Linked DNA regions of Homo sapiens. Each later gene encodes a partner of the first gene's protein in a complex. Each region holds a gene or a part of one and is shown in the gene's direction. Other genes may lie near its edges.

The links.
Region 2: RGS9BP (region 1) and RGS9 share a complex: the UniProt entries of both Homo sapiens proteins name them as parts of the RGS9-1-Gbeta5 complex.

The regions. Positions count from the first base shown.
Region 1 is NC_000019.10:32,666,590-32,678,800, forward strand, and holds RGS9BP (regulator of G-protein signaling 9-binding protein), read left to right. Parts: upstream 1-9,258; 5' UTR 9,259-9,674; coding exon 9,675-10,382; 3' UTR 10,383-11,711; downstream 11,712-12,211. UniProt on the Homo sapiens protein: Regulator of G protein-coupled receptor (GPCR) signaling in phototransduction. Participates in the recovery phase of visual transduction via its interaction with RGS9-1 isoform.
Region 2 is NC_000017.11:65,138,679-65,150,202, forward strand, and holds part of RGS9 (regulator of G-protein signaling 9), read left to right. Parts: intron 1-11,524. UniProt on the Homo sapiens protein: Inhibits signal transduction by increasing the GTPase activity of G protein alpha subunits thereby driving them into their inactive GDP-bound form. Binds to GNAT1. Involved in phototransduction; key element in the recovery phase of visual transduction.

The DNA.
Region 1 (12,211 bases):
TCTCAGAGGGGGTGCCTACAAAATGGGCACAGAAAAGGAAATCAGATTTCTATTTTTTTTTTTTTTTTTTTTTGAGACAGAGTCTCACTCTGTTGCCCAGGCTGGAGTGCAGTGGTGCAATCTCGGCTCACTGCAACCTCCACCCCTGTGATCAAGTAATTCTCCTGCTGCCTCAGCCTCCCTCGTAGCTGGGATTACAGGTGTGCACTACCACTCCCGGCTAATTTTTTTATTTTTAGTAGAGACGGGGTTTCATCATGATGGCCACGCTGGTCTCAAACTCCTGACCTCAAGTGATCCGCCCACCTCGGCCTCCCAAAGTGCTGGGATTACAGGCGTGAGCCACCATGCCCAGCCAGGAGATCAGATTTCTAACCACGTCATCCCACCTCTCTGAGCCTCCATCTGGGCCTGCACCACAGAGAATGCTAATACCTGTCTGCAGGACTCTTATGAGGGTCATTTCCATGCCACCTTCACTATCTGTGACATGCAGTACTGCATATCAACATAGCACCAGTTACTGCAAGCTCACATGGGACCTTTGTGAGAATTAGAAACAGGCACCCGACTTCCCAGGGGGCGCAGCTCTGTGCAAGGGCACTAGGCTAGTGAGCAGCTCCTAGGTAACATGCTGCACGGCCCCTGCTGCTGGGCAGTGAACAACCTGCCCACAATGTGAGCACAATTTTGCCCAACAATTACACATAATGGCTCTCTTGCTAGTGTTTGACATTTTCCTTCAATAACTTATTGTCTTTATAAAAATGTATTTTCCTTTCTGTTTTATTTTTGTTTACTTTTGTAGAAATGGAGTCTCGCTGTGTTGCCCAGGGTGGTCTTGAACTCCTGGCTCAACAGGCATATGCCACCATCCTTGGCCTAAAATTTATTTTAAAAAGAAATCTTATTACTACTTTAAATAGAAAAATGGTATCACTTCCAACGAAGAGAAGATCATCTTAAAGTTAAAAATTATAAAGGTAATTACTGTTATTTAAAACCTCATAATCCCAGCACTTTCGGAGGCCGAGGTGGGCGGATCCAGCCTGGCCAACGTGGTGAAACCCCATCTCTATTAAAAATACAAAAATTAGCCGGGCGTGGTGGCACACACTTGTAATCTCAGCTACTCAGGAGGCTGAAGCAGGAGAATCGCTTGAATCCAGGAGATGGAGGTTGCAGTAAGCCGAGATCATGCCATTGCACTCCAGCCTGGGCGACAAGAGTGAAACTCCGTCTCAAAAAAAAAAAAAAAAGTCATTAGATGCTAAGCTTGAGCCTGGGGCCTTCTCTCTTCATTAAAATGAGAAAATCAGCAACTATTTAAAAAGCGTAAAAGTGAATTTATCCTTGATACAATTAAATGAATGAAATATGAAATAGGAGCTACTCTCTCACTATGTAACAGGGATCCAGAATGCTTCCTTGGGAAAACACTATGCATACATAACTGCATGATGAATTCTATTCCTTGGAACTAATGGTAAAAATAGCCACCATTTGGGAGAGTCCTTGTACCAGGCACTGCAATAACTTCTATACATCCTCATCTTTACTTACTTACCTTCATTTATTTATGAGTTGGGGTCTCACTCTACTGACCAGGCTGGAGTACAGTGACACAATCATAGCTCACTGCACCCTCAAACTCCTGGCCTCAAGCAATCCTCCCACCTTAGCCTCCTAAAGTGCCACAATTACGGGTATGAGCCACCTGGCCAAGCCTAAATTTTTTGTTTTGTTTTGTTTTTGGTAGAAACAGTGTCTCACTATGTTGCCCAGGCTGGTCTCAAACTCCTGACCTCAAGTGAGCCTCCTGCCCTGGCCTCCCAATGTGCTGGGGTTACAAGGCATAAGCCACTGTGCCCAGTCTTATCTTCATCTTTTTTTTTTTTTTTTGAGACGGGTCTTGCTCTATCACTCACACTGGAGTACACTGGTACAATCACAGCTCACTACAGCCTTGACCTCCTGGGCTGAGGTGATCCTCCTGCCTCAGCCTCCCAAGTAGTTGGGACTACAGGCATGAGCCACCATGCCTAGCTAATTTTTTTTTTATTCTTTGTAGAGATGGGGTCTCACTAAGTTACTTAAGCAATCCTCCTGTCTCGGACTCCAGGGTGCTGAGATTACAGGCGTGAGCCACCGTGCCCAGCTAATTTTTTAATTTTCAGTACAGATGGGGTCTCGCTACATTGCCCAAGTGATCCTCCTGCCTCAGCTCCCCCTAAGTGCTGGGATTATAAGTGTGAGCCACTGCACCCAGCACTCATCCTATCTTAATGCTCACAATAACTCTAGGCAAGTAGGTATCACTAGCCTGTGTCACAGATGAAGAAACTGAGATGCAGCTGGCTGACTCAAGGATAAATAAGAGCCATTCATTCATTCATTCATTTAGTAGAGATGGTGTCTCGCTATGTGGCCCAGGCTGGTCTCATACTCCTGGCCTCAAGTAATCCTCCCGCCTCAGCCTCTCACAGCGCTGGGATTACAGCGTGAGCAACCATGCCCAGCCTAAGAGTCATATTTTATTTCAACAGAAGAAAAGTCCACAAGACAGACAGCCACACAGGCCCCTCAACTAATTCCCCAGGTCCAGCCAGAACTGTCTTGGCTGCAGGTGCCCTGGGTTCTGCTTGAAAAAGGCCTGTGAGCTCTCCGCCAGTCCTCCTAGGGAGAAGAGACTAACATAAAAATGGTCGCATATAATCCCTGCCTGGGCCCCAGGGGTGCCTCTGCAATAACTCAGCTATTTGAATCATTAAATTCACTTATTACTGGAGCCCAGATAATCCTTTTATGAGTCTCCACCACAATGAGATAATGCAATTTTGCTGGGACAGAGTCACAAGAACACAAAACTCTTTCTAGTTCCTGACATAGTTGGTTCTATGTGGCACATTGCAAAAGTAAAGATGCTCTGGATGAAAGCCATGTGAGAAACAGGATGCAATATGGTCAGACTCAAGCTGGGAAAAGGCGCTCCTTCTGCTTCAGAAAAGATGCTGGAGGAACACCAATACTTCCACCCCGCAAGATGAGGCAACAAGGACAGGCTTCCATGGACGAACTAAAAACAGAGCTGGGAGGTAAGGACCAGAGACAGAAGAAAACAGCAGTGGTCGGGCGTGGTGGCTCACACCTATAATCTGAACACTTTGGGAGGCCAAGGCAGTGGATCACCTGAAGTCAGGAGTTCAAGACCACCCTGGCCAAAATGGTGAAACCCCGTCTCTGCTAAAAATACAAAAATTAGCTGGGCGTGGTGATGGGCACCTGTAGTCCCAGCTACTTGGAGGCTGAGGCAGAAGAATTGCTTGAACCTAAGAAGTGGAGGTTGCAGCGAGCCGAGATGGCGCCACTGCACTCCAGCCTGAGTGACAGGCTGAGATCCCGTCACAAAAAAAAAAAAAAGAAAGAAAATGAAAAAAACGGCAGGGAAGGGGATGAACTAGAGGATGGGAAAGTAGTAAGACTCCAAGCAGAGGCCAGAAAGGGGCAGAACAGCAAGAGACAGGAAGGTCACTGAGTGCCACATCAAAACATGCAGGTCACATGCAAGAACTGTGTAAACACACCACGCCCTTAACAAGCACTGCTGTGCGGACAGGGCCTGCTGTTATCCAGCCCCAAGTCATCTGCTTTATCTTGGACCTCAGTCTTCTTGGTCACTAAAGACTGAATCCTCTGTCCAGGAGTAGGGATTCAAAGAGCTCTGTCCTTTCATCCGTGCTGTCACATGAAAAAAAAAGAAGAAAAAGGACCTCTGTCCGACACTGTTCTCAACCTTTCTGTCCTAGTGTTAAAAATACGTAACATGCAGGGTGCAGTGGCTTGGGAGGCCGAGGCGGGCGGATCACCTGAGGTCAGGAGTTTGAGACCAGCCTGGCCAACATGGCAAAACCCTGTCTCTACTAAAAATACAAAAATTAGCCGGGCATGGTGGCAAACCCCTGTAATCCCAGGTACTCAGGAAGCTGAAGCATAAGAATCACTTCAACCCAGGAGGCGGAGGTTGCAGTGAGCCAAGATCATGACACTGCACTCCAGCCTGGGCAACAGAGGGGGACTCTGTCTCAATAAAAAATAAAAAATGTAAATTAAAATTTAAAAAAGGGCCAGGCACAGTGGCTAGCACCTGTAATCCCAGCACTTTGGAAGGCCGAGGCGGGCTGATCACTTGAGATGGAGTTCAAGACCAGCCTGGCCAACATGGTGAAACCCTGTCTCTACTAAAAATACAAAAATTAGCCAGGCATGGGCACCTATAATCCCAGCCACTAGGGAGGCTGAGGCAGAAGAATCACTTGAACCTGGGAAGTGGAGGTTGCAGTGAGCCAAGATCACACCATTGCACTCCAGTCTGTGTAACGGAGTGAGACTCCATTTCAAAAAATGACAAAAAAAAATCTGTAATATGCCAGGTGCAGTGGCTCACACCTGTAATCTCAGCACTTTGGGAGGCTGAGGCTGACAGATGATTGAGCCCAGGAGTTCAAGACCAGCCTGAGCAACAAAGTGAGACCCTGTCTCTACAGGAAAATCAAAAAATTATCTATGGGTATGGTGGCACACACCCAGCCAGGGGAGGCTGAGGCCAGAGGATCACTTGAGCCCAAGAGGTCAAGGCTGCAATGAGTTATGACTGCACCACTGCACTCTAGCCTAGGCGACAGAGGAAGACCCTGTCTCCAAAAAAAAAAAGTAATAATCTCATATGATCTGGTGCTTAATGCCAGAGTTGAATTCTTACATAAGGGTAAATGCTTAAAAAAACAGTTTTATACCCTGTCAAGTTTACCTGCAAGAATTAGTTTGCTGGCTGGGCACAGTGGCTCACACCTGTAATCCCAGCATTTTGGGAGGCCAAAGCGGGTGGATCACTGGAGGTCAGGAGTTTCAGACCAGCCTGGCCAACATGGTAAAACCCCGTCTCTACTAAAAATACAATTAGCTGGTTGTGGTGGCCCACACCTATAATCCCAGCTACTTGGGAGGCTGAGGCACGAGAATCTCTTGAACCTGGGAGGTGGAGGTTGCAGTGAGCCGAGATCGGGCCACTGCACTCCAGCCTGGGCAACAGAGTGAGACCTATCTCAAAAACAAAACAAACAAAAGAATTAGTTTGCTATTTTAAAATAACATGCAAAGAAAATGGACTTTTTCTTGTAAAACTGGAAAGATAAGTGAATCTTCTTATAAAACTTCTTTTAAAAAATTCCATCCCTGCCTGGGCTCAAATGATGGGAAAATGTACAGAAAATCCAGTTGAGTTAGCTGGAGATACCAAATACCTCTAAATGTGAGTTATCTGCAGTTATTCTATGAACAGGAGAGCCATGTGAGGCCTCAAACTAGTATTTCAGGGAGCAGCGTGCACACTCGTGGTTTTGTGGTCTTCAACCGTCCTGCTAGCCCAGATAAGTCTGGGTGGTCAAGAACCGTCTGGTGACAGCGTGCAGCCCAGCTCAGCAGAATTCAGCATGGGGGAATTCAGCCTCCTTAGAGATGCACTCCCTGCTGAAATCTCACTGCGATGGCCGTTCCCGCCCTTCCGGGGCTCTGACCAAACACTCTGACCAGGAACGCTTCCCAACAGATAAGCAGTATTCTCCATTTGGTCTAATTTATGATTCAGAAGGAAAAGGCGAAAAACGAAAACTTTCTATTCATCTATTTTTCACACCAATGGAAGCAATGTGGTGATGTATGTATGCTGTTACAGTCACTTGTGTCCTCCTGACCTATAACATTTAGAGATCCTGTCCATATTCTTCTCAAAGCTTCTCATTAAAGCACCCAGCCCTGCGCCTGGTTCCCTGCAGAGATGGAGTAACTGCTCACCCACTTGAACAAAACGATAGTGGGGCATTAAGAGGAAGCCCCAGCTCCCAGGGAGAGGTCATCTCTCACAAGAGCTGGAACTCCACTGTCCATATCCAGGGTAGGTGAGGGGCTAACCCCAGGTCATAGCCAAGCAAGCACAAAGGCAAAAAGCCCAAAACAATCAGGATGCTCAGTGCCAGCCCAACACAGTGATAGCTGGAATGGGCAGGGCTAGAGAGAAGCCAGGACTGGAACCAGGGCGGGACCATGCAGGGAGCGGGAAAGTTTGGAGGAGCACAACAGCCCCTCCGAATGCCACCGCATCACCCTGTTCCCGGACCACAGGGAGAAGAACCACCATGCACCCTCCACCAGTATCTTGGGCAGATGGGCAGGAGCTCTAGGGCCGCTTCTCAGTGTTCCTCAGATGGAGAATCAACCTCAGGACAAATCAAGTCTGGATCCTTCTGGGCTGAATCCTTTCTAGGATTGGTACCTATCATGACATGGTCACATTCCTCCACTCCTCTATGAGAGGATGGAGTCATTGGACACCAACCTAATGCTGGCAAATGACAGACAGGAAGAGCCCCAGCAGGGCAGATGCCACAGAAACCTTAACTGGGACACAGAAACATCACTAACAAAGACCCAGCAGCTGTCTTGGTGAGGGAGACACAGTCTAACAGTCACAAAGAGGCACAACGGAGACCCTAACCCCCGGCCCTCTGCAGACACCTCTGCCTGCCCTCCCAGGGAAGCTGCCGGCCAAGATTATTTCAGGTCACCAGGCAAGACTGGGTGTAACTTGGGAATGTAAGTCTATCCAATGTCAGATCCCCAGGTGCATTCCTGTCCCTATGGCTGGTCAGAAGAAGTCTCTGCTCCTGCTCCCATCCTGCATCCCCTCCTTCCAAGGCCTACGGGCTGTGCCTCCTGGATCTGCCCCCTGGATTTCACTCACGCCTGTCCACCAGCAACACAACAAAGCGATCTTTCCAGCGCCGAGCTCTGCAGGATTCCTCAAAGGATTCCCCTGCACTCCCCACCAGGTGAGCCCTCAACTTCTCTGCTAGGTGCTCAGGACCTGGCACATCTGGCCTCTGGCCACCTTTGCAGCTTCCTCACCCTCTGCTGTCTCCAAAGCTTCCCCCGAAGGGAAAGAGTATTTTCCCTCTTTCCACCCATTTTGTCCTGAAAACTACTATCCCCCTGGGAACGACCCTATGTAGCGTGTGGGTGGCTGAGAACCCCCCTTCCACACAATGGTCAAGGCCAGGAGTACCCAAGCCCTGGCAGCAAACACCCAGCCTACTGCTCACCCAGTTAAAGGACGGACCCCTGGGTGACAGCAGGCCCCGGGGCTCAGTACACCGGACCCTTAGGCCACCTCAACACCAGTCCTCATGCCAGGCTGATCTCGAAACGTAACAGCTACTGCTCAGCAAAACGTGGTGGCTAGTGCCTGTAATCCCAACACCTTGGGAGGCCAAGACGAGAGCATGGCTTGAGTCCAGGAGTTCAAGACCAGCCTAGGCAACCTGCTAGACTCCATCTCTACAAAAAAAAAAAAAAAAAATTAAAAATTAGCCGTGCATAGTGGCATGCGCCTGTAGTCCCAGCTACTACAGAGGCTGAGGTGAAAGGATTGCTTGAGTCCAGGAGTTTGAGGCTGCAATGAGCTATGATGGCATCACTGCACTCCAGACTAGCCAACAGAGCCAGACCCTGTCTCAAAAAGAAAAAAACGAAAAGAAAGAAAAGAAAAAAAATATCCACTGCTCTACTCTTCGGCCAGTGGGAAGAGTGCATTTTTTAATCAAAATAGGGGCCTCTATCCATGAAACCCATCAACTTGTAAAATCTGAGCTCTCTGCAGCCTCACAGTCCCTCCAGCACTGCCAGCAGCCCTCGTTCCCTGCATGCTCTAAATCCTCAGCGAAGACCCGTCCCTTGCTCCCTCGCCCAGCACAGGCCGCGAGTGCCCACGTCCCCTGCACCTCGTGGGGCAGCCAAGGGGGCACCGCGTGGCTCGTGTGCTCCTGGGCAGTCCATTTTCAACCACAAGACGGAACAGACTCAGAATCCGGAACATCTCTCGGTGCTTAAGAGTTTTCCTTTAACAATCTTTACCTGTGGGAATGCAGAGACCCCCCCGCCCTGCGAGAGGCCGGCAGCCAGGGATTCCCCGCTCCGCGCCCTCATCACCCCCCGGAAACCACAACCGCTGCGCGCGCGGCTCGGACCCCCACCCGCCGCTCCCCTCCAGCAGACCCTAGGCCTCCGGGAAACCGCGCGGCGACCGCCCCGCGCCCCGCCAGATCCGAACCGCCGGACCCGGCACCCCGGCCACACCCGCCGGTGTCGACGCAGCGAGGCTCGGAGGGTGCATTCTCCGCGCCGACCGCTCCCCTCCTCCAGACCCGAGGGGCGGAGTGGGCAGGGCGCGCCGGCTGCGCACCGGGCACCCACCTGGGGACGCGGGGGCTGGGGCGGCGCGGGGCCACCTGGCGGACCCGGGAGCGGACTCCGGAGAGCAGGGAGCCCCTCCCCCCTCACTCTCCGGGCCCCGCCCGGCCGCCGCGCCCCGAGGCGCAGCCATCCCGCGGGAGGGGAGGCGCAGGAGGAGGCCAGCGCGAGGACACTTACTTAAAAGGCTACATCGCTTCATTCCCAGCCCATCCTGGGCGACGGCGGCACCTCCCTCGTCCGCTGCTGGGACCTCGATGCCCACCACCCTCGCGCGGCGATCTGGCCCTATAGCCCACCCCTTACTCCGCCGTGGGGCGGAGCCGCGCCACAGCTGACCCAATGAGAAACCGTCGTTTCCCAGAGTGACGTGTACGCAGAGCAATCATGGAGTCCAGCCCAGCCGGGGGCGGGGCTCAGGCGGCTCCCTACGCTTCCTACTCCAGCTGGCCCCGCCCCACGCCCGCAACTGCGCGTGCCCAGAACGTGAGGGGCGGGGCTGGGAGCCGGGCTGACACTAGAGGTGGGGTTAGCGCTTGGAAGCACCGACCAACGTGAGCGCAACGCGGCAGGGACACCTGACCCCGGCGGCGCCCAGCCCCTCGGATTGCCAGTCACTGCTCGCTTTGGGGCACGGAGGTGCCCAGTCCTGCGGGGCACCCGACGTCCTGTCGCCGACAGGGTCCGGGAGTCAGTATAGCTGGGTTCTAGTCCCATCACAGGCAAAAACTCCGCGGGAGCCTGGCCCGCTTTTTACCTGGGCCTCAGTTTCCCCATCCGTAAAATAGAACGGGTTGGATCTCCCGAGCGCTAACATTCCAGAACTCGGATGGGGCGAAGGGGAGGGAGGGATGGGCCACCCACACGTGACCTCCCCGCGTGGAGCCCCGCCTACCACTGATCCAGGGGGTGGCAGCTCCGGCCGGGACGAGCGGGGTGGGCGGGTCCTAGGAAACCCTACCCGGCCGCCCTTGGCAGCGCCTAAGGCGGAGCGCGCGGCTCTGCAGCCTGCTTGCCCCGGAGTTGGCACCCACGGAGGATGGGGACCGCACCCTCAGCTTCGCAGGGAGCCACCGTGGAGGCCAGGGCGGTGCAGAGACACGACGTGTGACTCGGAGTGCGCCTGGGGAGGATGGACGAGGGAGCGGGGGACCGCTAACGGGGCTCCCTCTGCGCGCCCCGTCCGCAGAGGCGCACGTCGAGGGTCCCGGGCGGGCTCCGTGGACGTTGGCGGTAGCGCCGAGCGAGTCACGGACCATGAAGAGCGTTCGTGCCGCGCGGCCCAAGGCCGGGATGGGGGTTAGCCACATCCTGCCGCGCTGAGGGGGAGGCTAACGGGCGCGGGCGGCCGGGCCCAGCCGGAGCCCACCGCGATGGCGAGGGAGGAGTGCAAGGCGCTGCTGGACGGGCTCAACAAGACGACTGCGTGCTACCACCACCTGGTGCTGACCGTCGGTGGCTCGGCGGACTCGCAGAACCTGCGGCAGGAGCTGCAAAAGACGCGCCAGAAGGCGCAGGAGCTGGCGGTGTCCACCTGCGCCCGGCTGACTGCTGTGCTGCGCGACCGGGGCCTGGCCGCCGACGAGCGCGCCGAGTTCGAGCGGCTCTGGGTGGCCTTCTCGGGCTGCCTGGACCTGCTGGAAGCGGACATGCGACGCGCGCTGGAGCTGGGCGCCGCGTTCCCGCTGCACGCGCCGCGGCGGCCGCTGGTGCGCACAGGTGTGGCTGGCGCCTCCTCCGGCGTGGCGGCGCGCGCGCTGAGCACCCGCAGCCTGCGGCTCGAGGCGGAGGGCGACTTCGACGTCGCGGACCTGCGGGAGCTGGAGCGCGAGGTCCTTCAGGTGGGCGAGATGATCGACAACATGGAGATGAAGGTCAACGTGCCCCGCTGGACCGTGCAAGCCCGGCAGGCGGCGGGCGCCGAGCTCCTGTCCACGGTCAGCGCCGGCCCCTCCTCGGTCGTGTCCTTGCAGGAGCGCGGGGGGGGTTGCGACCCCAGGAAGGCCCTGGCCGCCATCCTTTTCGGCGCCGTGCTGCTGGCGGCTGTGGCCCTAGCCGTGTGCGTGGCGAAGCTGAGCTGACGGACACCCGACGGCCGCCTGCTGCTGCCGCTCCCTCCCCTGAGAAAAGACTCGGGATGGGTGTGGGGTCTGGCCTGTGCAAGGGGAGTGGTCCTAAAACCCCGTGTGTGCATGGGTACACGCGCGTTTCCAGTGCACATCTGCCTGGGCAGGACACGGTTTCCTCTTGCTGGCCCGGGAGGAGTTAACTTTGCGCCGGCCGTCAGGGCATTACCGCTAACGTCTGCAGGAGCTTTATTCCCTATTAATAGAAAACCGTCACAGTGACCCTAGATCCCTCCGAGTTAATGAGTTAACACATGTGCTGTTGGGGCGTCTTTACAGGGAGTCCGAGTTCGGTGCCCACCCCTGCCAGCGTCGCCCCCTTTCTGCGTGGGACAGTTTGAAAAGGTGGGTGGGGTGGAGTGAAGTTTGGAGAGGGACGCTGTTTGGTTCTATGTGGTTGGTCTGTTTCCCGGACAAGAAAAATTGCAATCAAATGTCAGCAGCTTTTATTACCTTAATCTTTCAGGGCCTAAATTTAGGAGAGTGTCCCGAGAGCAGTTCATACAAAGGGCTTTCTCTAAGACGCGCTACAGCCCTTCCTAGCAGAGTTTATCCATTCGTCCCCAAGAGCAGCTAGAAGAGATTTGAGGTCATGACCTCCCACTGCCGCTCAGGGGCTGACCCTATTTAGGAAACCAAAGAGGGTGGGTTGAACCTACTCTCACGGACTTGGATCCAGTGCGCACACTTGCCTGCGGAAAAGGGCTCTCCCCAGCCACCCGGAGATGGGGGTAAGAGGAAGAGCAGAGGCTTGGGGTAGGGCCACCTGGTGTTTAAACAGGCACTTTCTCCTTCTCTGGGGCTTATTTTTGTTCAGAACTAGACCAGAGTGTTTGAACCTCCTTTGCAGGAGGGCTGGGAATCCTCTTTAGAGCACTTAATCCTATTTATCCCCTGGAATGTGCGTGCTGGCCAGTAGGAGGGCTGGCTTTGGCAGCTCCCTGACCCCCGCGCTGCCCGCCCCTCCGGGGTAATGTGGCATTACTGGCCCACAGAGGTTTTGAGCCAATCAGCTCTGAGACTGGGTTAGAATGTAACAGCTTTAACTTGGGATTTAAGAAGCTTTTAAAAGGTAATAATACTCTGAAAGAAAAATGACGTAACCACAGCGTGTACTATGAAAGCTGTTATTTTAATAAAGAACGCTGGGCCATGAACTCATACCTGCCAATGAGTCAAACATAGTATCTTTATGTAGATACTTAGATTACTAAATATATATTTCATCTACTTCTGAAGTTGATAGTCTTCCCCCCCCCCCACTTTTTTCTTTTTTGAGACAGGGTCTCCCTCTGTCACCCAGGCTGGAGTGCAATGGTGTGATTGTGGCTCACTGCAGCCTCCAAATCTCGGGCTCAAACTATCCTCCTACTTCAGCCTCCTGAGTAGCTGGAACTACAGGTGTGTGCCACCGCACCTGGCTAATGTTTTTAAGGCAGTTAATTTATTTATTTATTTTTATTTTTCTTTAGAGATAGGATCTTGTGGTGTCGCCCAGGCTGGAGTGCAGGGGCGCAATCAGCAAACCACAGCCTTGAACTCCTGGGCTCAAGCTCTCCTCCCACCTCACCCTCCCAAGTAGCTGGGACTAAAGGTGTGCATCACGGCACTCAACTAATTTTTTGTAGAGACAGAGTTGGGCTATGTTGCCCAGGCTGGTCTCAAACTCCTGGCCTCAAGTGGTCCTCCCACCTAGGCCTCCCAAAGTACTGGGACTACAGGCATAAGCTACTATGCTCAGTCTAAAATCAATATTCTTTATTTTTTTCTATAATTTCACTGCA
Region 2 (11,524 bases), on another chromosome or scaffold:
CTAAAAGCAGAAGAAACTGCCTAAGTCGGCTATCTCAAAGCCACACATCATCTTCCAGGATTTATCCTAGGACTGTCTCCTCCCAGGCAGGACAGCTCTGGCTTGGGGGCTCAGAGGGTAATTGTCAAGAGATAAATTCAGTTTGTTTATTGAATCTCTGGCATTCTTTTCCATCATGACTCTTCTCTGGTAGATTCTCCTCTCCTTACCTTGGTCTTCTGACTAGTGTCTTGGTCTCTAGTTTCTCTCCTCCACCCCAGGCTTCCCTCCTCCTCCCCAGCCACCCCTCCTCCACCCCAGCATCCCCTCCTCCACCCCAGCATCCCCTCCTCCACCCAAACTCTCCCTCCTCCACCTTAGTCTCCCTTCCTCCACCCTAACCTCTCCCTCCTCCATTCCAGCTCCCCTCCTCCACCCCAGCTCTCCCCCCTCCACCCCACCTTTCCCTCCTCCACCCCAGGTCCTCTTCCTCCACCCTGTCTTCCCCTTCCTCTACCCCATCCTCCTCCTCCTCCCCAGCCTTCTCCTCCTCCATCCTAACTTACCTCTCCTCTACCCTAACCTCCCCCTCCTGCATCCCAGCTCCCCATCTTCCACCCCGGTCTCCCCTCCTCCATGACAGCTTTCCTACACACACTGTTTTTTTCCCCCAAATCAATGGTGACCTCCTTGACCTGAAACGCTCCACTGGCTTCCCACATTCCCAGCATAAAGTCCAACCTTCCCCTGAGCAGCCTGGTTACCCAGGATTCCGCTCCCACCATCTTCCTGGCTTTGCCTCCTGCCTGCCTTCCACACCTGCCCTCTGGGAAACAACAAAGCAGCCACAGGCACCCCTGGGCTCCTGCCTCAAACACTTCCTTCCTTTTTAGGAACCCGGTGCCCTTTCATGCCTCAGGGTCCGTCTGCTGGGAAAGTCCTTTCTCCCCCTCTCGCTTGCCAAGCTCCACTTCTCTTCCCATGCCCAGCTCAGTCACCCCTCGGCTGTGAAGGCTGGTTCTCCTAATGCCCCTGGGCAGGACAGCTCCCTTCTCTGTGCACTACAGACCTTGCCACACCTCCAGCATTGCTCTTTCCCTAGACCTTGTGCTGGCAAGGGCCCTGTCTATGTATCCTCTATATCTATGTATGTATTGGTCATGTCACAGAGCTCCTTGGAGCAGCAGACAGAATAAAGGTCTGCAGAACAGGTCTCAAGAGCCCATGCCAGGCGATCCTTAATGAAGAACCAGCTACATTCGATGTTCAGCTTTCTGGAGAAGGGCCTGGAACAAAAAAATGTGGACCTGGGTGCAACTGTCACTCATCACTCGTTCCATGCATGTGATGAAGTACACGGTGTCCATGATGGTGTGGAGGGGTGGGCATTATGTGCATTATCTCATCTATTTCATTAGCTGGAGGTTATGGCCACCATTTTACAGAGAAGAAAGCTGAGGCTCAGAGAGGCTAAGCGGCTTGCCAGTCACGCAGCACTAGGTGGTGAAACCAAGAAGAAATACAGGAGTGGTCGTTGTCTGTCACAAGTTGTGGTGCAATGCCCTGAGCTTTCCCATGACGTAGGGCAGAGTGTGGAGGCTGTGGGAAAGCCTGGCTCAGTGTGCTTAGGGACACAGAGCTGAGACCTGAAGGATACATAGGGTTTCCAGGCAGAAAGGGAAAGATGTTTCAGGCAGAGGGAACAGTTTACGCACAGAGGCATGGGAAAGCTAGTGGGTTTGGGGCCATGTTCTGTAATGGATGGATTTTGAAGTGCAAGGGGAGTGGGAAGCTGGAAAGGAAAGGCAGAGGTAGTGGGTGCCTATGGGCCTTCAAGACCTTTTAAAGGTTTGGTTTTATCTCATACGGAGCCACTATAGAAATTGGAATGGGCAAGTGATATGGCAGATTTGCAAATTAAGAAGATCACTGGTGGGCCAGTTGCAGTGGCTCATGCCTGTAATCCCAGCAGTTTGGGAGGCCAAGGTAGGTGGATCATCTGAGATCAGGAGTTTGAGACCAGCCTGGCCAACATGGCAAAACCCTCTGACTATTAAAAATATAAAAATTAGCAGGGCGTGGTGGTGAGCACCTGTAATCCCAGCTACTTGGGAGGCTGAGGCAGGAGAATTGCTTGAACCCGGGAGGTGGAGGTTGCAGTAACTGAGTTCACAAGTTCTTGCCACTACACTACACTCTAGCCTGTGTGACAGAGAGAGACTCTGTCTAAAAAAAAAAAAAGGACCACTGGTGTGAGCCAGAGGAATGGGTGGAATGCCTTCTCCCTGAACTAAGAGAGTTCACTCAGGATCCTCCTGTGCCCCTGCAGCTCCAACCTCTTGAGAAATGACAACTGTCATGGGGCCATGGAGAGCCATACTGGTCAGAAAGGACCGTGTGCGATTCCCGAGGTTCTCACACCCATGCCTCCATCTCAGTCTCAATGCAGCTGTGGGTCGGGATGCCCGCCGGCCATGCTGCTTCCCACCTCTGATGCCTGGGCTCGTTTCAGATGTGGTAGAAAGAGGCAGAAGGCCCATCTGTTCATGGCTTTGCTGGGGAATTAGCTGATGGCACACAGTGGACAGATGAACACAGGTGGGTGGCCTCCTGTGGTTCCAGCACCCATGGACTCTTGTTCTGGGGATGGCCCATTCCCCTCTGCAATTACCAGATCACCATCCCAGCCAGTACCACCACCGCCCTTGGGATTCACCATGGGCGAATTTCTTGGACTTTCTTGGAGAAGCCTTCTGGTGACAGCTTTGTTTTCCTGTGCGGCTTCTGGCATCTCTTTTTGCCTGAGAAAGGAATGCAGAAGCAGAAATATTGAGGATATCCAGGCCGAGTTTGGTATCTCTTGCTTGTAACATTCTTTCATTCAATACAGACATATAATTGGGTACTTATGGGCTAGATGCTGTGCCAGGTGCTGGGAGCACCAAGGAGCTTAGAGTCTAGTGGAGAAAGACAGATGTATAAACAAGGAGACAAGAAGTGTTCCATAGGCTGTGGCAGACATTGTTGGAGGATACATGTGACACCAAGCAGGGAGTGGTCAGTTCTACCTGGGGTCAGGGGGGATCAGGACAGATTTTACAAGGGGGCTTGCAATGGAGTCGAATTATAAAAAGTCAGTAGTTTTTGGCCAGGAGGTTGAGGAAATGAGTGACATTTTAGGCAATACAAAACAGGGACATGTGAAGTAGCATGGTGGTTTGGGAGATTGCCTGCGGGTTGGGAGAGCTGGCCCCAAGTGTACAGGAAGTGAGTTTGGCGTTGATGGAGAAGACTGGTAGGTAAGAAAGGCCCAGATCTGCTGGGTGCAGTGGCACATGCCTGTAATCCCAGTACTTTGGGAGGCTGAGGTGGACGGATCACTAGGTCAGGAGTTCAAGACCAGCCTGGCTAACATGGTGAAACCAAAAATACACAAATTAGCCAGGCATGCTGGCATGCGCCTGTAATCCTAGCTACTTGGGAGGCTGAGGCAGGAGAATTGCTTGAACCCAGGAGGCGGAGGCTGCAGTGAGCTGAGATCATGCCACCGCACTCCAGCCTGGGTGACAGAGCAAGACTCAGTCTCAAAAAAAACCCAAAAACCAAAAACCAAAAACAAACAAACAAAAAGAAAAGCCCAGAACTGGAGGGCTTCCTAGGTCATGCTACAGAGTTTGATGGCTTCTGTGTTTAATGAGAAGCTGTTTGACGTTTTAAAATCAGGGATGAATAAGATGAGTTGGTTTATATGCTAGAAAGATGATTCTGGTGAGAGGGAATGAGTAATTCTCAACCTGGGCTGCACTTTAAAAAACATTAATATCAACTCACTCTACTTTGAGTTTCTGATTTACTTGGCCTGGAAGTGAGGCTTAAGCATTGGTCTTTTTATGCCACTGTTTTTCTCCCTTCCTTTCTTTTTTTTTTTTTTTTGTTTGTTTTTGAGACAGAGCCTGTCTCTGTTGCTCAGGCTGGAGTACAGTGGCGAGATCTCGGCTAACGGTAACCTCTGCCTCCCGGGTTCAAGTGATTCTCCTGCCTCAGCCTCCCAAGTAGCTGGGGATACTGGGACCTGCTACCATGCCTGGCTAATTTTTGTGTTTTTAGTAGAGACGGGGTTTCACCATGTTGGTCAGGCTGGTCTCAAACTCCTGACCTCAGGTGCCCCACCTGCCCTGCCTCCTAAAGTGCTGGGATTGCAGGTGTAAACCACAAAGCCTGGCCTGGTTTTCTTTTTGTTTCTTTCTTTCTTTTTTTTTCTTTTTTAACAATTTCTTTTTTTAGAGATGGGTTTTCACTATATTGCCCAGGCTGGACTCAAGCTCCTGGGCTCAAGGGATCCTCTCACCTTGGCTTCCTGAGTAATTTCATTTACAGGTGCCTGCCATCATGCCAGGCTTAACCATTGCTCTTTTTGAAAAGTTTTCCAGGTGGTTTGAATGTGCAGTCAGGATGAGAGCCTCTGGGGACATTTGGCAATGTCTAAATACATTTTAGGTTGTCATAACTGGGGGTGCTCCTGGCATCTAGTGGGTGGAGGACATGAATGCTGCTAAACATCCTACAACACACAGGACAGCCGCCCTCACCAACCCCCAAAGAATGATCCAGCTCCAAGCGTTGATGGGGCCACTGTTGAGAGCCCTGGGCTAAGGAGCACCCCGGAGGCTGGAGACAGATGCCAGCTCAAAGGCAGAACCTGATAGTCCAGGAAGGGGGTTAGAAGATGTTCCACGGAGGCAGGATTGAGTGGGCAGAGAAGAGATGTGTTGAAAACAAAAGCAGTCAGACTGAGCAACATATCAAGACCCATCTCTATAAGAAAATTTAAAAATTAGCTGGGGGCCAGGAGTGGTGGCTCACGCCTTTATCCCAGCACTTTGGGAGGCCAAGGTGGGTGGATCACTTGAGCCCAGGTGTTCGAGACTAGCCTGGGCAACATGGTGAAACCCTGTCTCTACCAAAAATACACACACACACACACAAATGAGCTGGGCATGCTGGCAGGCACCTCTAGCCCCAGCTACTAGGGAGGCTGAGGTGTGAGAATCACTTGAACCCAGGAGGCAGAGGTTGCAGTGAGCCGAGATTGTGCCACTGCACTCCAGCCTGGGCGACAGAGCCAGACTCTGTCTCAAAAAAAAAAAAAAAAAAAATTAGCTGGGCAGGGTGGCACATGCCTGTAGTCTTAGCTATGGGATGCTAAAGTGGGAGGATCACTTATGCCCAGAAGTTTGAGGCCACAGTGAGCTATGATCATGCCACTGTACTCCAGCCTGAAAAAAAAAAAAAAGGAAACAAAAGCAGATTCAACAAAAGTTGGCCACATCTTGGCTGGGGTCACCTGGAACGATTCCCAGGCTTTTGAATCGGTGGGAAGAGCAGATTTTGGAGAAAGACTACCGAGCACTGGTTAGGGCATGGTGCCTCATGAGTGTCTGAGCGTCTGCGAGACATCGGGTGAGACAGCGGGAGGGTGGCTGGACTCTGTGTGGCCAGGCTTATTAGCAGGAGTACATCCTCCTCTGTTAGAAAAACAACTCTGCGGTTCTGGGTCACTTTTCCCATCTTTGTATAGAAAAGTACCGATTATTATTGTTCCCCCGGGTGCCTTCTCCAGCTTAAAGGAAAATTCCAGCCCCAGAGATCTTCCGCAGTGAGTGACAGCTCCTTAATGTGAGGAGCAGCGTGGGCGTGGTGGGTGGGATGTCAGAGCCATCAAAGCCCTCATTTCTGATCCCTCTGTGATGTCGGGGTTCCCTGGCACGCCCACTGTCATGCCTCAGCACATTGGCATCTGAGAGAGGAAAGGTGCAGCTGACACCCTGACCCCCTTCTCCCCGACACGGGGTCAGACAGGGTCCCGCGGTGGCCTGGTTGTGCAGCACTGACATGTTGCCTGGGAACGAAGCGGGGCTGATGCTTTGTCTTGGGAGGAGCTGGGAAGCAGAGTCTGTTTGGGAGTGAGAGTGTTGGCCTTTGAGGGTGAGCATGCCCCCAAGGACACAAGGAGGAGAGTGCAAGGTCTGCTGAAGTTTGCAGCAGAATAGCAAGGGCATCTCACTCCCTGGAGAACTTGGGAAACAGTTCAGATTCTCTCCCCTCTGTGCAGGGGAAGGGATGTTTCTGATTGAATATAGGACACAGAGTCTGTATGAGTTTGTAGGGCTGTCGTCACAAAGATGCATAGACTGAGTGGCTTAAGCAACAGAAACTTCTTTGCTGACAGTTCTGGAGGCTGGAAGTCTGAGATCAAAGTGTGGCACGGTTGGCTTCTCCTGAAGCTTCTCTCCTTGGCTCGCAGATGGCCGTCTTCTCTCTGTTCTCACATCATCTTCCCTCTGTGTCTATCTGTGTCCTAATCTGTTCTCATAAAGACACTGGTCATAGGGGATTAGGGTCCACTCCATGACCTCATTTCACCGCTTTATTTTATTTTTTTATTTTTATTGAGAATGAGTCTCACTCTGTTGCCCAGGCTGGAGTGCAATGGCGAGATCTTGGCTCACTACAACCTCCACCGCCCGGGTTCAAGCGATTCTTCTGCCTCAGCCTCTAGAGTAGCTGGGACTACAGGTGCCCCCCACCACGCCTGGCTAATTTTTTTGTATTTTTAGTAGAGATGGGGTTTCACCTTATTGGCCAGGCTGGTCTCAAACTCCTGACCTCATGATCCACCGGCCTTGGTTTCCCAAAGTGCTGGGATTACAGGCATGAGCCATTGTGCCCAGCCTTATTTTTACTTTTTTGAGACTGAGTCTCACTCTGTTGACCAGGCTGGCGTGCAGTGGCTTGATATCGTCTCAGTGCAACCTCTGCCTCCCGGGTTCAAGCGATTCTCCTGCCTCAGCTCCTGAGTAGCTGGGATTGTAGCCTGCCACCACTCCTGGCTATTTTTTTTTTTTTTAATATATTTTTAATAGAGATGAGGTTTGCCATGTTGGCCAGGCTGGTCTCGAACTCCTGACCTTGAGTGATCTGCCCATCTCAGCCTCCCAAATTGCTGGGATTACAGGTGTGAGCCAGTGCACCTGGACTCATTTCACCTCTTTAAAGACCTTATCTTCAAAAGCAGTCACAGTCTGAGGTACTGGGGTTAGGACTTCAATGTACGAATTTGTAGGGGGACGCAGTTCAGCCCATAGAGCTAGAGTTCTGTGGTTTCCTGGGGAGACTGAGGAGACGCCTCAGAGGAATTTGTACGGGGAAAGGTCTGAGGAAAAAGGATCGGATCCCAATGGGCCGAACTCCCTCAAAATGTTCCCGAGGTCCACGTGACGTTCCCTCCTCCCACCCAGCCCTTCTTTCTGTGAAGGGTGACACACCTCCTAGAAAGAAATCTGACTCCCCTCATTGTGTTTTTAAAATAACTCTCATTATTCCTCCTCTGAAGGTTATTTTCAAACTCTTTATAACTCGATTTTTTTTTAAATGCAAAGACAAGGAATCAAATCTGCCAACTTTCTATCAGAGAAACTCGGGTTTCTAACTTTTAAAGTGGGATTATATGTCTTCTCCAATATATGGGCTCCCTGCTTTTATAACATGCTGCTGTTACATCTAATAAAAACCATTTTGAATGAAGGCAGCCTTTCATCCGGCAGCTAATGTGGGAAAAAGGAGTCTTGGGCCCTCATATTAGAAAATCTTGGCCTGGCGTGGTGGCTCACGCCTGTAATCCCAGCACTTTGGGAGGCCAAGGTGGGCGGATCACGAGGTCAAGAGATCAAGACCATCCTGGCAAACCTGGTGAAACCCCGTCTCTACTAAAAATACAAAAATTAGCTGGGTTTGGTGGGGTGCGCCTGTAGTCCCAGCTACTTGGGAGGCTGAGGCAGGAGAATCGCTTGAACCTGGGAGGCGGAGGTTGCAATGAGCCAAGATCCGCCACTGCACTCCAGCTTGGCGACAGAGCAAGACTGTCTCAAAAAAAAAAAAAAAGAAAAGAAAATCTTGGCCGGGCACGGTGGCTCATGCCTGTAATCCCAGCACTTTGGGAGGCTGAGGCAGGCAGATCACTTGAGGTCAGGAGTTTGAGACCAGCCTGGACAACATGGTGAAACCTCATCTCTACTAAAATACAAAAAATTAGCGTAGTGGCGCGCGCCTGTAGTCCCAGCTTCTCAGGAGGCTGAGGCACAAGAACCGCTTGAGCCCAGGAGGTGGAGGTTACAGTGAGCCAAGATCATGCCACTACAGCTTGGGCTACAGAGTAAGACTCCGTCTCAAAAACAAACAAACAAACAAAAAAAGAAAATCAGGCACTTCTTGGGTACCATGGAGACCTGAGGTCACAGTTAGTGGAGAACTCCAGAAGGAGTCACTCCTGCAGCCTGTTGCCTCCTCAGTTCCCTGGGCCACCCCCAGGAGCAGCAGCTGTACCTCCCAGTGCCCCGCAAACACCCTCCTGGCGTTGTCCCTTTGCTTCCCTCATTGCTGCTGGACCTACAGCTGACCCAGTGACCTCAGATGCTGCCAAGTCCTGACACTGCAGATGGCCAAGGACTATGGCTCTGAGTCAAGCCAAAATAAGTATTTTCTGTTCCAAAACAATTCTGTGAGCCGAGAATGTGTCCGTGCAGAGGAAGCTGACAGTCAGTCTTGCACCAGGAGTCCCTGGAGCTGCCTGGGTCTGCACGCTGGCTGGCTGTGTGCTCAGAGTGGCCTCAGCTGTGTACCTGCCCTTGGCCCATTTCTTGAAATCGTGGTTCAGCTGCAAATGCTGGTTTAGCAATAAAGATTGAAATAGGGAATCTCACCCCTCAGCATCAAGTTAGGTCATGGTCCCACGCTCCTTGGGAAGGTGGGAGCTTCCCAGCTTCAGGCTGCCTGAGTGACAGGTGGCAGGTAGCATTTTTCCACTTCAGGACTCCCTTGAATGACCCGTCACCTTGAATGCACCTGGATCATTCTCTCTCTCTTTTAAAAACTTTTTTTTTTTTTTTTTTTTTGAGACAGAGTCTCACTCTGTTACCCAGGCTGGAGTGCGGTGGCATGATCTCAGCTCACTGCAACCTCCACCTCCTGGGTTCAAGTGATTCTCCTGCCTCAGCCTCCTGAGTAGCTGGGATTACAAGCATGCGCCATCACACCCAGCTAATTTTTGTATTTTTTGTAGAGACGGGGTTTTACCATGTTGGCCGGGCTGGTGTCGAACTCCTGCCATCAAATGATCTGTCTGCCTTACCCTCCCAAAGTGCAGGGATTACAGGCATGAGCCACTGTGCCCGGCCTCTCTTTAAAAAATTTTTATTTTATTGTGGTGAGAACATCTCACACGAGATCTACCCTTTCAAAACTTTAAGTGCACAATACAATATTGTTGATGAGGTACAATGTTGTACAGCAGATGTCTAGAATGTATTCATCTCATTTAACTGAAAGTTCTTTATGTCTGTTGAGTAGCAACTCCCCAGTTTCCCTTCTCTCTAACCCCTGGCAACCACCATTCTGATATTTGATCTATGAATCTGTCTATTCTAGGTACTTCATGTAAGTGGAATCGTGTGGTATTTGTCCTTCTGTGACCGGCCTATTTCACTTAGCATAATTAGCCCTAGGTTCATCCATTTGCTTGCATATTGCAGAATTTCCTTCTTTTCGAAAGCCAAACAATGTTCTTTTGTATGCATAGAACACATTTTCTTTGTTCATCTGACAGTGGACACTTAGGTTATTTCCACATTTTGGCTAACGTGTATAGTGCTGCAGTGAACATGGGAGTGCAGGTATCTTTTCCAGAGCCTGATTTCAATTCTTTTGGGTACATACCCAGAAGTGGTATTGTTGGATGCTGTGGTAGTTCTATTTTTAATTTTTCTGATGAACCTCCATACTGTTTTCCACAGCAGATGCACCATTTTATATTTCTACCAACAGTGCACAGGGTTCCAATTTCAATCTCTTTCCATTTCTGAATTAAGAAACCTGAGTCCTTCTTATACCACCCCTCCCTTGGAGTGCGGCCTGGTCCTCACCATCTAGGGAGATTCTGTTGGCCCTCTCTGCACTTTTTTTGGGATCATCTCAGCCAGTCTGCAGTTGCTATTTTTTTTGTGGGTAGGTGTGGGGAGGAGGACAAGGGCTCCCTGTGTTGCCCAGGCTGGTTTCAAACTCCTGGGCTCGAGTGATCTTCCTGCCTCAGCCTTCCAGGTAGCTGGGATTACAGGCATGAGCTACCATGTCTGACTTGCAATTGCTATTTCATAAATACTTTGTGCACAGAATGATATGAAATGCTTTGTATGCTTAATCTCATTTAGTCTTTGCAATATCCCTACGATGATTGGTTTTGGTGTTTTTTTTGTTTTGTTTTGTTTTTTGAGGCAAGGTCTCTCTCTGTTGCACAGACTGGAGTGCAGTGACGTGATCTCGGCTCATTGCAACCTCTGCCTCCCAGGTTCAAGCGATTTTCCTGCCTCAGCCTCCTGAGTAGCTGGGATTGTAGGCGCCCGCCACCATGCCCGGCTAGTTTTTTTTTTGTTGTTGTTATGTTTAATAGAAACGAGGTTTTGCCATGTTGGCCAGGCTGGTCTCGAACTCCTGACCTCAAGTGATCCACCCGCCTTGGCCTCCTAAAATGCTGAGATTACAGGCATGAGCCATCGCACCGGGCCTGATGCTATTGCAAGTTCTATTTTACAGATAAATGAGTCCTAGTGAAATTTAGCAATTTACCAAAAGCCTCTAGCTTCTAAATTGGAGCAGAGATGTGAAACTGAACTTTCTCTGCATTCAGACTCCTAGCTTTCATATTAGTTAACTTTTCATTTTCATGTAACTGTCTGCTCAACTTTCTGAAGACTGGGTGTATGTCTTTTACCTTGTATCCTTGCAGTGCAGGGTTCTTAATACATGCTCAATAAATACCTATACTTATTTGGTTTGTTGACCTGGGTTTCTATTCCTGGGCACCTAAACACAACCCTGCATGCAAAGTTTCAAAATGTATTAGTATGAATGCTACTAATATTAATAATTCTAACCATAATAGTGAACATATGTCTCTCCTGATAAAGCATATATCTTCATGCATACATAACATATATCTCTCCTTATAGAGCATTTTACATAATTAAATTCTAAGGGATTATAAAGTCACAAATTAATTAAATTCTAAGAGATTATAGAATTCTTTAGTAGTCCACATCATGGTCCCCATTTTATGGAGAGAAAGGAGATTCAGAGAGGTTAAGTGAGTTGCCCAAGATCCTACAGTTAATAGAGAAAGAAAGTCCCATGGAGACTGAGTGCTTTTTCTTTGGACTGCAAGCAAGCACCTTCAGATCATGAAAGGATTTTGTAAATTGTAATGAGCCAGACAGTGTTGGGAGATGTTGTTTAATTCAGTGCCAGAAGACTAATGATGGTGTAAGCAAGGTGGCTAAATGGAGGGGAAGCAGGTAAATGGATGAGATGTTTTACTTTGGGTAATGGCGGGAATGTGGACAGACTTGGTGTGAGAGCAGCCATCCACGTTGATGTCCAGCTGCACGCAGCAGCCCAGACCTCAGGAGAGAGCCCTGGGCCAGGTGAAGGCAGGAAA